Linked DNA regions of Homo sapiens. The protein of the gene in region 1 interacts with the protein of each later gene in a pairwise test. Each region holds a gene or a part of one and is shown in the gene's direction. Other genes may lie near its edges.

What was found.
Region 2: the proteins of ISOC1 (region 1) and CALCOCO1 interact in binary tests that used the Homo sapiens proteins (3 or more experiments, as listed by UniProt).

Annotation. Positions count from the first base shown.
Region 1 is NC_000005.10:129,089,941-129,097,892, forward strand, and holds the start of ISOC1 (isochorismatase domain-containing protein 1), read left to right. Parts: upstream 1-4,808; 5' UTR 4,809-4,826; coding exon 4,827-5,135; exon of another isoform or gene 5,136-5,459; intron 5,460-6,608; exon of another isoform or gene 6,609-6,839; intron 6,840-7,747; exon of another isoform or gene 7,748-7,826; intron 7,827-7,952.
Region 2 is NC_000012.12:53,710,194-53,717,462, reverse strand, and holds part of CALCOCO1 (calcium-binding and coiled-coil domain-containing protein 1), read left to right. Parts: intron 1-1,047; coding exon 1,048-1,203; intron 1,204-1,415; coding exon 1,416-1,670; intron 1,671-2,137; coding exon 2,138-2,263; intron 2,264-2,769; coding exon 2,770-2,865; intron 2,866-3,221; coding exon 3,222-3,330; intron 3,331-3,562; coding exon 3,563-3,762; intron 3,763-4,256; coding exon 4,257-4,363; intron 4,364-4,616; coding exon of another isoform or gene 4,617-4,688; intron 4,689-5,341; coding exon 5,342-5,519; 3' UTR 5,520-7,269. UniProt on the Homo sapiens protein: Functions as a coactivator for aryl hydrocarbon and nuclear receptors (NR). Recruited to promoters through its contact with the N-terminal basic helix-loop-helix-Per-Arnt-Sim (PAS) domain of transcription factors or coactivators, such as NCOA2.

The DNA of each region.
Region 1 (7,952 bases):
GCAATAATTTGTCCTGTACTTTGGAGGGGATGTCTTAGAATGCCTTAGGACACTGGGCCCTAAAACATTGCTAATGTGGTGGTTCCTTGAAACTATTTAGAGGTTATCACTCCCCTCTGGAACACTTGTGTCTTACCAAGGCCTTCAATGAATAGTCACTTTTTGTTCATCTTGTTCAATCTGCATGATGTTATTGATACAGTGAATGAAGGTGATATTCTGCAGGATGTCCAGCTAACTTATATCTCTTCAGAGTATATTGTAATAGACGGCAGGACAGTTAACATAGCCTTGGGGTAAGGTTGTAAATTTATGGCCCATTTAAGAGCAGCCTTAGAAGCACTGTGTTCAGACCATCTCCCAAGAACCTTACTAGGGTGTTAAATCCTCTATCCTAATATGGTGTTTCCTAACCGAGAAACTTTTTTGTTCCACATCCTCGATCACACACCCTCCAAATCCAGTGCTGTGCATAATCTCTCTGCTCCTGATGGTATATGCTGGTTATTAGATTCTGTAGCTGCTCTTGGATATATTCCTTCTTTTTCAGGCCCAACATATCTGTGGCCAGATTTTACTGTTAATTAAGCCTACTTATGGATATAGGTATCAGGAGGGAAGGAGAGGGAAGAGCCTGGGAAAGCTAATGTCTTGCTAGAGAAAAGGCTTTGCATTGCCTTCAAGAAATGAGGGAATGCTAGTCATTAAGAAAAGAGTAAGTCATTTCTAAAGACCAGATCAATTAAAAGAATCGAAGGACTCATAATTTTCAGTGTCATCAACTTTATCCCATGTGTCACGGTCCCATTTCTCAACCAGAGTCCTGACCTTGGCATAGAAAATATGCATTTTTTAAGAGTTTAACCTTCTTTGGAGCTCTGCTACCTTCAGTCCTAGTCTTGGTCCTCAGCTTTCTCTCTCTTCTTATTGCAGGAACTGAGAGACTCAATGCTGCCAAAAAGTTCTTCCAGCCTTCACACTTAGCTTTTAGTTGCCAACTATCTTTTTTTTGGTCTTTTTCTAGAGCATCAATCAAACTTTGAAACTGTCATTCAATTCCTTTATTCTTATAATTAGTATTTCCTCCATATTTTTCAAATTCTTAATTACAGTGAAGGCATTCCTTTCCAGTAGTATATGATTCTAGTTCATCTTGCTGGAAGTTTAAAAAAACTGCCAGGGGCTATCTGTGCTCCACAGATATTAGTGGTTAGGTATTCATTATCTGCCCAACAGTGGGTGACCCAGCTCCAAAATCCATCCACATTGGCCTCCTTTCATCTTTCCTAGCAACAAATGTCACAGGTTGATTTCCCTGGAAAGCAGACTCTGAGATAAAAATCAGCACACTGAAGACTTAATAGACAGTGCTATTTTGGCTATTATTTCTTCCAATATTCTTTCTGTTCCATTCTTGTCTCATCTCTCCCTCTTGGACTCCAACTACATATTAGATCATTTGATATTGCCCTCCAGGTTACTAAAACTGTCATCATACTTTTTTCAATCTCTTCCTGTTCTTCACATTGGATAATTTCTAGTACTCTGCATGCAATTTCACTAATCATTTCTTCTGGAACCTATAATCTGAAGTTTAGATTACCCAGTGAGCATTTCACTCCAGACATTGCACTTTTAGCTTGAAAAGTGACATTTGGCTATGTTTTCAGTCATCTCCATCTCCCTGCTGGTATTCCCTATCTGCTCAGTCTTATGGCTACCCTTTCTTTTAAGACCTTGAATATACTTGTAACAACTTCTTTAAAGTTCTTTTTCTCTTAATCCTAACATCTAGATTGTCTTGAGGTCTATTTTTATATACTGGAGGATTCTGAACACAGCAGTGACACGCTCTAAATTTATGTTTTTGAAAAAGTGCCACTCTAATAGCCGTGTGGTAAATGGAGTATAAAAGTCTATGTAAATGAGGTAAATGGATAAATAGGGATACAAAAGTCAAATATTGGGCACAACTTATGATGAGTTACAGTTAGATGGAAGACGACAGTGGTTTTGTCTTAGGTGGTGGCACTGGTGTGAATGAGAGGAATTTGGTTCTGACCACCAGGTCTTGCTGATAGACTGGACAAGGACAGAAAGAGGAGTAAATTAAAGGATAAACCCCTGGTTATTGTACTCAGTTACTAAAACGGGGTTGCCATTTGCCTAGATATCAACAGGGGAGAGAAAATATTCGAGGACAGAAGAAAACTAAGAGTTCTGTTAGTACATTTAAATGTGAGGTATCTATTGAATATCCAAGTGGAGATGTCGAATAGGCACTTGTGTATGAGTATGGAGTGCAGAGTGAGGGCCTGGATGTTAAAAATTTGGAAGTCAAAGGTATATGGGTGATATTTAAAGCCACAGTCTTAGGATAATAGATGTGAGGACTGAGCTCTGGTATACTTGTATTTATAGAGGTTTGGGGAATGAGAGGAACATAGGAAACGAGCTTGAAGTGAGGTGGAAGGAGAAATAAGAGAGAGTGGTATCCCAAAGACAAAGTGAATATGGTTCAAAATAAAGGGAGTAATTGGTTTGTCAAATGTTGCTGTTAACTGGGAAAGGTGAGAAATAAGCCTTTGTTTTATCAGTCTATTGAGATTTTGGGGTTTGTTTCTGTAGCATATTAATGTATTAATCAATACTGTGTAATATACCTTCTTGATTTTCTTGGAATTTAGATTCTAAAAGTAAGCATTTAACATTAACTAATAAAGCTACTGAGAGTCCTATATGAGAAAATTTTGGGCATTTGGTCCATAATATGATCTTGTCAATTAGAACAGTTATTTTCTACTTGTCATTTGAATATTCATTTATGGGGTCTTACTCACTTTTTCTGGTAACATTTATAAAAATTATCTTAATAATTGTATTTCTGAGGATAATAATTTATCACTGAAATGTGCATTCACCTCCCTTTTGCAGCCCAGTGATGCAGAGGTTGATACACAGTTGATATTCAATAAATGGTAAATGTGCCCATCAAATATCTATTTTATTAATGTTATTTAACATGCTATTACCACAATGATTGCACCATTAAACTAGGTTGTCAAGGACCAATCTCAGACAGCACAATATATATGGAAGTTGATTTCCTTACTGAAGGGTCAGAAACCTAATTTAAAAACATGAAAGGGAAATGAAGTATGTTGACTCACGGCCATGAGGGCCACGGCAGAAGACTGTGTAGATGCCAAGGTCCTCGCTGAGGATGTCTGAAGTCTAGGCCAATCTCTAATCTCCAACCTACTCTGTGTTAGGAGGCTTTACAGGGTGGAAGGAACACTTTTATTAGTCCACCCAAAATAGGTAGGTACCTTTTGGTAATCAGGTCTTGAGGGGGTACACTTATTAGCACAAATCAGCATATCTGCATATAGAAGACCTTGCAATGGAGTGGTATCCGGAAAAAAATATCATTTTGGGTCTGACGGGTTCAGACAACACTTTTAAATGGGATCTCTCAAAGTGTGATGAGAACCAGAAAAAAATGGCTATTTCTAGTAGCTTCGGTACAATTGAGCAAGAAACACCAAAGGATGGTCTTTTCATAACTTTAAAGCAGTGTGGTTCTCAAGTAGGGGGTATATTTGCCCTCTGGGGAATATTTGGCAATGTCTGGAAACATTTTTGATTGCCATAACTAGAGGGAGGAGCGGTCACTAGGCATCTAGCGGGAGTAGAAGCCGGTGATGCTGCTAAATATCCTGCAAATGCACAAGATGCCCCATCCCCAAGAAAGAGAAATGTCCATTCCAGAAGTCAACAGTGTCAGTTGGGAAACCCTGCTTTAAAGGTTATTTTCTTAGAAGAGGACAGCTTTAATACCTAAAATCTAATTTTATGTTTAGGCCCATGCCTATCTTCGCAGGACTCAATTCCAAGGAAATTCTGTTCATAATGCATGCTTTCTAATTCCAGTTAATTATAGCGCCTTACAGTGTGCAGAAGGCAGAGGATTGTTTTATTTGAAAGTGATCCCTTTTACTTACTTAAAAACAGATATCCTTAGTTTCAATATAAAGTTCAGATTTTTGCTTTTAATAGTATTTATATTCCCAAATCCAAGTCCTCCCAGAAATAGGTTGAGATGAAGGGAGGCCAGATATCAAATCCATTCCTAGAGATATTGTGTTCTGTGGGACCGAAAAAAGACAAAACTTGAACCTTGACTGGCCCTCTAAGGATTAAATTCTGCTGCTCTTCTTAGGGTATCTATCGGACTGTCCCTTTGGTTGTAAGATACCACTGCCATCTCGAGGAGGACTGCATGCTTCTGCACAGAGCCAACAGGTAACTCGTCCTGGCGGCTCTGTGTACCCAACCACAACCCTAGACTGCCAAGAACACTGCTCATTCGAAGGCGAGCGAAGCCGCGAAGAGGGCCAGCGTTAGGGGAAGGGTGGTACAAACCCTTGTGTGAGCTGCAGCACCGGGGCAAGAACAACGGGCAGCCCAGGCGGGTCTTGGGTCTGCGAGACCACTAGGCGTTCTGCCGGCAGTCAGAACCGCGGCAGAAAGGGCGCGAGCGGGGAACTGCGGGAACGCAGCGGCCCGGGAAGCTGGAGGGGGCGGACCCGGCCGGCGAGCGCAGGCGCTCCCTGGCTCACGCGCGCACCCCGGCCCCACCACCCACCCTTACGCCGCGGCCCGCCCTCCGGGGCGGGTAAGAGAGCGCGCGAGCAGCGGTCGTCAGGACACGCCCCTTCGCCTCCGCGAGCTGGCGGGCGGGCTGGCATCGCCGGGAGGCGGGGCCGCGGCAGCCGGCTGGGTGCGACTGGGCGGCCTCGGAGCTCGCAGACGCTCGGGGGAACATGGCGGCTGCGGAGCCGGCGGTCCTTGCGCTCCCCAACAGCGGCGCCGGGGGCGCGGGGGCGCCGTCGGGCACAGTCCCGGTGCTCTTCTGTTTCTCAGTCTTCGCGCGACCCTCGTCGGTGCCACACGGGGCGGGCTACGAGCTGCTCATCCAGAAGTTCCTCAGCCTGTACGGCGACCAGATCGACATGCACCGCAAATTCGTGGTGCAGCTGTTCGCCGAGGAGTGGGGCCAGTACGTGGACTTGCCCAAGGGCTTCGCGGTGAGCGAGCGCTGCAAGGTGCGCCTCGTGCCGTTGCAGATCCAGGTGGGTCCTGCGGGAGGCCGCGCGCTTCCCTGTTCCCGAGTCGTCCCCGTCCCCGTCCCTGTCCCCGCCTTCGCCGCGCTCCTCAGGTGCCCCGAGCCGCCCGGGACCCGGGCCCTGCGCGAGTGGCTGAGTCCGAAGGGCTGCGCGTCTTTCGCAAGTTCCGGGGCCGGCTGGGGAATGCCCCTGTCCAAAGGTGATGGTCACCAGCTGTCCCCGGCGGGGGCGTGGGCCTCGTAGCTGGTTTCAGCGCCCGCGAACGCCCCCACGTGTGTGGTCCTCGGTCGCCCGCATCCGCTTTTTATGCCAGGATCAGGTCCCAGCCTCCTGCGTAACCAAAGGGCTGTGCTGTAGTAGCTGTTTTTATTTTGGGGTGATGGGTGATGCAGAATGGGGGGAAATGAGATTGTGGGGAGTATTGGTCTTAGGGTTTGTTCCTAGAGTTGTGTTAACCACTTGCGGAAACGCAAACTTTGGGAGTCAAACCCATTCCCCCCCGCCTTCCCAGGCTCTCAGGTCCTTGGGCTTAAGAGTTCCCTAACCTTAAGCAAATAACCATTTGCTTAGCCTCCTCTTAGTAAAGTGTCTACTGACTTGATTACGTTTTGTCGTCTGCATTGAAAAAGTCATTTGACTCCATGATTGTAATTCCTTCTTGAATACAAATACCCAACTTAAGCTAGACCTTGAGTTCCTGGGCCTGCTGGCTGGGAAAGTTGTTCTACCTGAGGACTACTTAACAGCATTTATTTTAAGCTGTGCTCTCATGCTAGGCGGGTTAATCTTCCGCCCTCTTTAGGATCAGATTGTTCACTGGCGAATTTATATTTTGGAAAGGAAAGAATATAAGGTATAATTTAGGTAGTACACTGTCGATATCATTTCTTTAGCTGAGAAACTGATAAGTCATTTTTTCAGAAGACCAAACTGAAATGTGGGATTCGGGGATAAAAGGTATTTTAATATTTAAGTGTCATTTTCTTTCTTTTTTGTTTTTAGTTTTTATGGGCACATAATAGTTGTACATATTTATAGGAGACGTGATATTTTGATTCAAGCATACAGTGTAGTGATCAAATCAGGGTAATTGGAATATCCATTACCTGAAACATTTATCATTTATTTCTTTGTTCCAAATTCATTTTTGTAGTTATTTTGAAATATACAATAAATTATTGTTAACTATAGTCACGCTATTGTGCTACTGAACACTAGAGCTTATTCCTATTATCTGTGTTTTTTGTACCCATTAACAGTGCCATTTTCTGAGGATTATTCCCTAGTTTTTTTCCGCTGTAGTTGGCAGCTGAATTGATGATGTTTCCTGTCACCCCAACACCTGTGCCAGAAGTGTCCAAAGCAGGTACTTTAGCTTCGATAAAGTTCCTGCATTCAGAGGACAAAGTCAGAGACTGCACTCTCTGCCAGTGGAGAACCTGGAACTGGATACAGTGATCTGATACCCCAGAATCTTACCTGCTGCTCAGATAGGGAATTGCAGTTCTTAGGTGCTTAAGACTCCTCATTTTTATGTCTTCAAGCGTTTTCGTGTCTGACACCTCTCTGCAGCCTTCCTTGTCAGTCCTTTTACGTTACTGCTGCCAGAATACTCAGATGTTGGATGCACCTTTGAGAAGTCCATTTATAAAGGCTAGAATCCAAATACTAACTGCGGAGGTCTGGGACTAAGGATGCAGACTTCTTTATGAAGCATTTCCTGTTACGGCTTGGAGGGAGGCTGGGCTCTTATCTAAGATAATGCTATTCTAAACTAGGCCCCAGCTCTGTAAGAGTCCCCGCCTTCCAAGATAGGATTTTTATATTTGAAAATTTCAGGGCCTTGGTCTGGCAACTCTTAAAAACATTCTAGAAATTAATGAAATGTATGTACCTGAAAACGCTTGTACATTCTCAAAAGGCGTTATATAATTCTGGTCACCTGTAGCTTTTGCAGTGTTTTGCTTGGTATAGGAGATTATGTATAGTTCACTTTTTTTTGGTGAGGTTTAAAATAACAATAGCATTACTCTACTCCCTCTTCAGAAGAAATTTTTCCGCCAACTAGTCTAATAATTCTTAAGCATTAGTTATATTTTTGCATTTATATAGCTTTATATTTTTAATTCTTTAAAAATATTTTCTCTTCTATATTATCTCATTTTAGTAGTTATACTTTGACTTCTTCAGCCTGATGCCTCTCCTAGCTTAGAGGTAGATAAAGGAAGGGGATAGATACATAAATATGCACACACTGTGTATCGTATATACCTTCTGATACCGATTTATGTCTATATGAGAAGAGAGAGATATATATACACACATACATATATATGCATATGTGTGTATAATCTCAGAAAGTCATGATATTTCTCATGACTACTGTACACTATATTCTTTGGAACCTAACAGCATAATCCTAGAGACTTGGATGTTTTATGGCTGTAAGAGACCATACAGTTCATTCCACAACATGTGAGTGGCAGCTTTAAATGCCTGGCACAGTGAATGCAAACTTGGATTCAATTCTTGTTCCTTACCTAATAAATGAACTTTCACTTTGAGGAAGTGCAGAAGAACATAGGGAGGTGGAGGTGAGTAACTTGCTGCAGGTTACATGGCAAGTCTCCGCATATGCCTGGCTAGCTCCTCCACAAATGCGTGTGGAGGAGCTAGCCAGGCATATGCAGAGCGTCACTTACAGCCGAACACAGCACTACTGCTTGCATGTTTAATGAGAATTGAGCAGTCTGGAAAACAAGTCACAAACTTGAGCTCTTGTTTGTTCATTTGTCTTGGTGCTGCTCCTTGTTCTTTGGAATA
Region 2 (7,269 bases), on another chromosome or scaffold:
GGTTAGACTGTGGTGGATCTTGAGCTTCATTTTTATTCCACAAGCGTGAAAGGCTTTGATGATTTTTCAAGCAGGGGTGACGTGTACTGTACTTATGGCCAGGTGTAGTGGCCCACGCCTGTAATCCCAACATTTTGGGAGGTGAAGGCAGGAGGATCCCTCGAGCTCAGGAGTTCAAGACAAGCCTGGGCAACATAGTGAGACCCTGTCTCATCTCTACAAAAAAATACAAAAATTAGGCAGGCGTGGTGGCACACACCTATAATCCCAGCTACTGGGGAGGCTGAGTTGAGACAATTGCTTAAGCCCAGGAGTTGGAGGCTGCAGTGAGCTGTGACCATGCTACTTCACTCCAGTCTTGGCGACAGAGCCAGACCCTATCTCTAAAAAAGAAAATAACTGTATTTAAAGAATCAGAACTGTACCTAAAGAAGAATAATCTGATTCCCTTGTGGAGAATGAACTATTTATGAAGTTATTCAGTAGTCCAAGCAAGAAATGACCAGAGTCTGAGATAACGTGGTTGTGGTGGTAATAGAGAAGGGAAAATGGCTGTGACCAGGATGGAGAAGCAATAGGTTTTTCTGTGGGCCGCTAGGGAGAGGACAGAGCCAAGCATGGCACCAAGGGCACCAGGTTACTCCATCCTGAGTAACGTGGGAGCTAGTTGGTACCCTGGACGGAAATAAGAGTAGGAAAGACTGGGATGGGGTGAGAGGTAGACTGTTGAGTTTAAGGGGCCTGTAGGGCATGAAGACTGAGTTTTGATTTAAGAGAAAGAATAGAGTAGCAGAAATGGTACATGGAATGCCTACACAGAAGACCCAAGGCTGCGATGCTGGATACCTCAATTTGGGAGCTGGAGACTGGATATGCAGGATTGAGTTATTTGAGCTGAGAACCCAAGAAGGGCTGGCAATAGCTGAAGGCTTGAGTGTGTGTTAAATCTGAGAAGTGGAACCTTGACCTCTCTCATCACAATGGTTCACCTCCCGAGCCACCCCAACACACATACCCCTTTCCTTACCTGCTTTCCACTTCCCTCAGGCTGAGCTCCAAGTGGCACAACAGGAGAACCATCACTTAAATTTGGACCTGAAGGAGGCGAAGAGCTGGCAAGAGGAGCAGAGTGCTCAGGCTCAGCGACTGAAAGACAAGGTGGCCCAGATGAAGGACACCCTAGGCCAGGCCCAGCAGCGGGTGGTGAGTGAGGCCCCTTGGCAACAGGAAACGGGAAATTCCAAGGGCAAGTTGTAGAGAAGCCTGCGTGTCTAAAGAGAAGGGGAGAGACATGGCTAAAGACTAAACAACACAACCCCGAGTCCTAATGCAGTGGAGTGGAGGGAGCGTTTACCTCCCTGGCTGATGAATGATTCACTAGGAACTCTGATCTCCATCTCCTCCTTTCTCCTGAGGCCGAGCTGGAGCCCTTGAAGGAGCAGCTTCGAGGGGCCCAGGAGCTTGCAGCCTCAAGCCAGCAGAAAGCCACCCTTCTTGGGGAGGAGTTGGCCAGTGCAGCAGCAGCCAGGGACCGCACCATAGCCGAACTACACCGCAGCCGCCTGGAAGTGGCTGAAGTTAACGGCAGGCTGGCTGAGCTCGGTTTGCACTTGAAGGAAGAAAAATGCCAATGGAGCAAGGAGCGGGCAGGGCTGCTGCAGAGTGTGGAGGTAGAGGGATGGGGGGTACCTGGCAATCTGATGGCCACTGCCCCCACCTCTGTGGGGACTCCTACATGTGGTCAGACCCTCTGGGAGGAGAGAAGAGGGGTTGAGAACCTTAGAGGACTTGGGTGGAGAGGGGCTTTGAGGGAGGTACACTTTACTTTCTAGGCATGACCCATCCCTAACCGGGGTATCCCAATCCTGATCACCAGAGTACCTTCCTTGGAACAGAAACATTTTCTGTCCTAGACCCCAGGCCCTGCCATAATGCCCATTCCTGATCAAGCAGCACCTGCCGTCATGTCCTGTCCTTCATTCAGAGGGTATAGGAAATGAAGGCAAAAAGGGGAAAGTGCTCTAAAAATGATGCTTTAAATAAAGGAAAGGACACAGTAAGGGATGGTGCTGTTGACAGTGGCGTTCCTTTTTCTTCCCCCTCCACCCTCCCATTTTCCTTCTTGGCTATCTCTCAGGCAGAGAAGGACAAGATCCTGAAGCTGAGTGCAGAGATACTTCGATTGGAGAAGGCAGTTCAGGAGGAGAGGACCCAAAACCAAGTGTTCAAGACTGAGCTGGCCCGGGAGAAGGATTCTAGCCTGGTGAGGCATCCAGCCACCAAGGGTCCTGTCCTATGGCCTCCTGAGGCATCCATACCCCTTCTCTCTGTCTTGGGTATGGGCTCAGAAGTGCTAGGTGTCCACTACCATGTTGGGTGGCATTTCACTTGCACACGCAAGCCCTCATTGGTTTGAAATGTGCATTTTTTTCTGCTCTCAGGGCACACATCTGGGCCCAGTAGAGGTGACTTAGGAGAATTATAGAGTGGCCCCTTGGTATGACCAAGGCCTCTGCACCCCAGCCTAGAGGAAGTCATGCAGGTCCCCACTCGAGAGGCAGAGACTAAGACTTAGAAAACTGAGTATCTGTGGCCCAAGACAAAGTACTCATGGAGGAAGTGTTGGGAATTCCTGTGTGTGTGTGTCAGAGCAGGGAAGAAGCAGAGGCATGGGGAGACCTGGTTCTAGATTGTTGGTCCTGGTCCCAGAGTCCAGGTTCTTGGAGGTACATTCTAGGCTCCAGATTCCATTGGGCCCTCTTCCCTCAGGTACAGTTGTCAGAAAGTAAGCGGGAGCTGACAGAGCTGCGGTCAGCCCTGCGTGTGCTCCAGAAGGAAAAGGAGCAGTTACAGGAGGAGAAACAGGTGAGCACCCATAACCCAGGCCCCGTGGATGCCACAGGTGAGGACTTGAGGGCTAGAAACTTTGTAAATTCCTGTCATCTCTTGGCTTAGAAACTGTTCTCTCCAAGAGGGCCCGTACCCTGGCTTCTCTTATTAGCTGATTTGGCAGGACAGCGGATGATCTCTGGGAGAAGGGAGGGATGTAAGTGGTGAAGCAGGGGTGCTGGGGGGAGTGTCTGCCTGAAGTTGCCCCAATCTTTGCTGAAGGCATCTAATGCTGAGGAGCTAAGAGTTCTTCTTGGGTGCAGCTTCTGCAGGCTAGCAAGGTTGGCACCTTCCCATTCTCTAGCACCTGCCTTTTTCCTTCCCAATTCCAGGAATTGCTAGAGTACATGAGAAAGCTAGAGGCCCGCCTGGAGAAGGTGGCAGATGAGAAGTGGAATGAGGATGCCACCACAGAGGATGAGGAGGCCGCTGTGGGGCTGAGTCCGTGTAGCCCCAATCTTGTAACACCTCTTCCCCACTCTACCTCCCGCTGTTGAGGAAGGCTCCATGTAACCTTGCTGGGAGCTGCCTTTGCCTTCTATGTGTTTTGCCTTTTCTTTCCCAGACCCTGGCCCCTGTTTAGTCTAATGATACCCCTCATCCAGAGGAGACAGCTGGTCCAACTCCTCACAACACATCCTTTTTTCTTCTCTGCCTGCTTCATCTCCTACAGGCTGCCCGGCAGCTCTGACAGACTCAGAGGACGAGTCCCCAGAAGACATGAGGCTCCCACCCTATGGCCTTTGTGAGCGTGGAGACCCAGGCTCCTCTCCTGCTGGGCCTCGAGAGGCTTCTCCCCTTGTTGTCATCAGCCAGCCGGCTCCCATTTCTCCTCACCTCTCTGGGCCAGCTGAGGACAGTAGCTCTGACTCGGTGAGCAGTGGAGGAGCCTGTGCAGAAGCAGTAAGGAGGGGCAGGGCCAAACCCAAGTGTCCCAGCCTGGAGTGCAGCACGATCTTGGCTCACTGCAGCCTCTGCCTCCTGGGCTGAAGCGATCCTCCCACCTCAGTCTCCCAAGAGTAGCTGGGACCACAGGCAGGCACCCCCGGCTAATTAGAGAAGGAATCTTAGCTATCCAGGGCTCTCTTTTTCCCAGGGGAGAGGAGGCAGGCCCAGCCTCTCTTCAGTGCCACACCAGTAGATATCATCCCAAAACCCAGACCAGCCCAATAGCCTCACTGCTTCTCCCCCACAGTCATTCTCTTATTATTCACCAGCCCCTCAAAACGCCTCTCCTGCCTCACTCTTCCTAAGCCCCTCAGGTCACTGTCCTAGCCTTGGCTGCTCTTCCCATACCTGTCCCAATGTGCTGCTCCCCCATCTTGGGACACCACCCCAAAGCCCAACCCTGTCTCTTTGGCATCCAGGAGGCTGAAGATGAGAAGTCAGTCCTGATGGCAGCTGTGCAGAGTGGGGGTGAGGAGGCCAACTTACTGCTTCCTGAACTGGGCAGTGCCTTCTATGACATGGCCAGGTGAGTTCAACCAGCAAGGCCAGGAGGGAGGTGGGAGGAGGTCAGAGGGAAAGGGCATCTGTGTGGACAGTCACCAGGCCCTGCTCCCAACCCCTGCCCTTCTTGGCCTCAGCCAAGAAAAGGAGATACAGGTATGGTTAACAAGGAAAATGACTCACTGCTCCAAATCCCAGATGCCTTCAGGTAATCCCTACCCCTATCTTATCAATGCACTCAGAGGTCCTGCCTTTAACTGGCTTCTATGTTGTTCTAGCACCATCTTCTGCAGAGCCCAAATTGCCCTGCTTCCCCTCTCTCCTGCCTCTACCCCTTCCCCAACCACCAGGTAGGTACCTAGGGTCCTCCGGGGAGGAAGGGAGGTGACCATGGCCCCCAGGGATAGGAGCAGAGAGAAGACTGGGATCCAGCATCCATCTGGCTACAACTGAAATGCTTTCCCTCTTCCCTGACTTCCCTGGGTAACCCTTAGGGAAGGGAACCTATAGAGGTGGGGGTTTCAGGTATCAGATTGTCCCCTTCTGCCTTCCCTTTTATTCCCAGGTTCAAGGGGGCAGGCACAGGGAAGAGAGATTTGATCATCTAGTCCCGGTTTTGCCTGGATGTGAGATGGGCTCAGGGCAGGGAGGGGGTGATGCTGTCATCCTTCTCGGCTGGAGCAGGAAGATGAAGGACGATGTCAGACTCATTTTCAGCCTCATTAGGCAGCAGACGGAGATGGAGGGAGGAGAGCAGGAGGCTGGGGGATGGGCTCTGCACTGCAGAGACCAGCAGGGACTAAAGAAGAGAGGACATGGGGAACTGGAAAAATAAGCCTTCCAGGATTGTGGGGAGAAAGACGCTGTGGGAGAGGCCAGGATGCTGCATTAGGCACAGGATAACCTGGGAACCCAGGCACATGGGTCCTGCTCTCCGAAGTCTGCAAGTCAAGAAGGGAACAGAGCACGCCGACCCTCTCCCTTTCCCCTCTGTCTCTCTTAGTGGCTTTACAGTGGGTACCCTGTCAGAAACCAGCACTGGGGGCCCTGCCACCCCCACATGGAAGGAGTGTCCTATCTGTAAGGAGCGCTTTCCTGCTGAGAGTGACAAGGATGCCCTGGAGGACCACATGGATGGACACTTCTTTTTCAGCACCCAGGACCCCTTCACCTTTGAGTGATCTTACTCCCTCGTACATGCACAAATACACACTCATGCACACACACACTCACACACATGCATACACTTAGGTTTCATGCCCATTTTCTATCACACTGGGCTCCATGATATTCTGTTCCCTAAGAACTGCTTCTGTGTGCCCTGTTTTCATCCCAAGATTTCTCACTTCATCCTCTCCTACCTGGCTCTTTTGTCCCAGGGAGGGGTCCTGTTCGGAAGCAGTGGCTGAATTTATCCCCTGAAAGTGGTTTTGGAGGAACCGGGATGGAGGAGGCCTTCCCCTGTGGGAATAGAATCGTCCACTCCTAGCCCTGGTTGCTTCTGATACACAGCCACTGCACACACACACTCACACTCACACTCCCTTGTCTGATGCCCCAAAGCCAATTCCTGGGGCACCCTACCCTCTCTTATTTGGAGTTTCCGTTGGTTTACCTGAGTTTTCTCTGGGGTCTGCACAGAGGCAGCAGCATGGACATCATGGCCTCTCAGGTCCCTTTTGGTTCTCAGTTTCATTGGTTCCTCTTTCTGTTCCCCCATTGACTTCTGTGCCCCACCCTAGCCTTTTCCATAACCTTAGGTATTCAGTTTGGAGGGGTTTTTTGTATTTTTGAGGATTCCTGTATTCTGTATCCTCTCCTCGCATCTCCTCACATGGAAAGAAATAATGTATTTGTGCCTTCTGTGAGGAATGGGGGGAACAAGTGGTCCCAGGTATCCCCATTTCCAAGGCCCCCCTCCCTCTCCAGGTCCCCCCACAGCAATAAAAGCTTCCCCCTGATATCCATCCCTTTGTAGTTTGAACAAATATATTTATATGATATGTATGACTGTTGTCACAAAATGTGTTCTTATCATGAGGTGTGACTGGAACACAGGGCCCAGACCTCCAGCTCTTAGACCCTGGTGGAGGGAGGAGGGAAAGAGGGGACGCATCCCTGCCTCATGGCAGGGGATGCTGGGCAGTTACTGTCCTGTCGTGCCTCCTGGTGTGCTGGCCATGAGTGGGTTGTCTCAAGTGGGAGTCTGGCTTGGATAATGCGGCAGTTGGGGAGGGAGCAAACTCATGGGTCCCTGTCACTTCTGCTCAGGGTTTAGTCCCAGGGTGGGTGCATGCCATGGAAAAGTGGGACAAGTTTCCCACTGCCGAGAACTTCACCCTTCATAGCAGCCATCACTGTACCTTATGCCAAAGGACAGGCTTTATTCCTGTCAAGAGCGTACACCTTTGAGTATCTACTTAGTAAAAAATGCCCTAAGCCTCATACCTCTAAAGGCGATTTTATATTCCTCCTGTTTCTGTTTCTGTTTCTTTCTCTGTTGCCATCCCCTCATACCTGTATGCACACTCTGCCTCAACAGTCACAAAAACACATTCATCCACTCTAACCAGCTTCACAGGCTAGACAGACACATACACAGCATCGTAAAGCATTTGTTAAGGACCTGCACGCTCACCAAGGCTCTCAGCAATGGCCTGCACAAGCACATGCCTACAACCCCCTCGTCCTCCAACCCAATAGCTCCCTTCTCAGCTGCCCTCCTCTCCCTTCAGGGCCCCTGTGTGGACCACCCCCACCATTCCCTTTCTCCATTCACCTGAAATGCTCCTGTCCACCCCCTTTCCAGCCCCACCTGGATGACTTCTTACATCGTTCCTTCTTCCCTCACGTCTCCGTCTCCTAGCAACCCCATCCCGTTCCCTGAATCCCTTCCAAGGAAATTAGAGATAATGGATCTCTCCTCTCTCC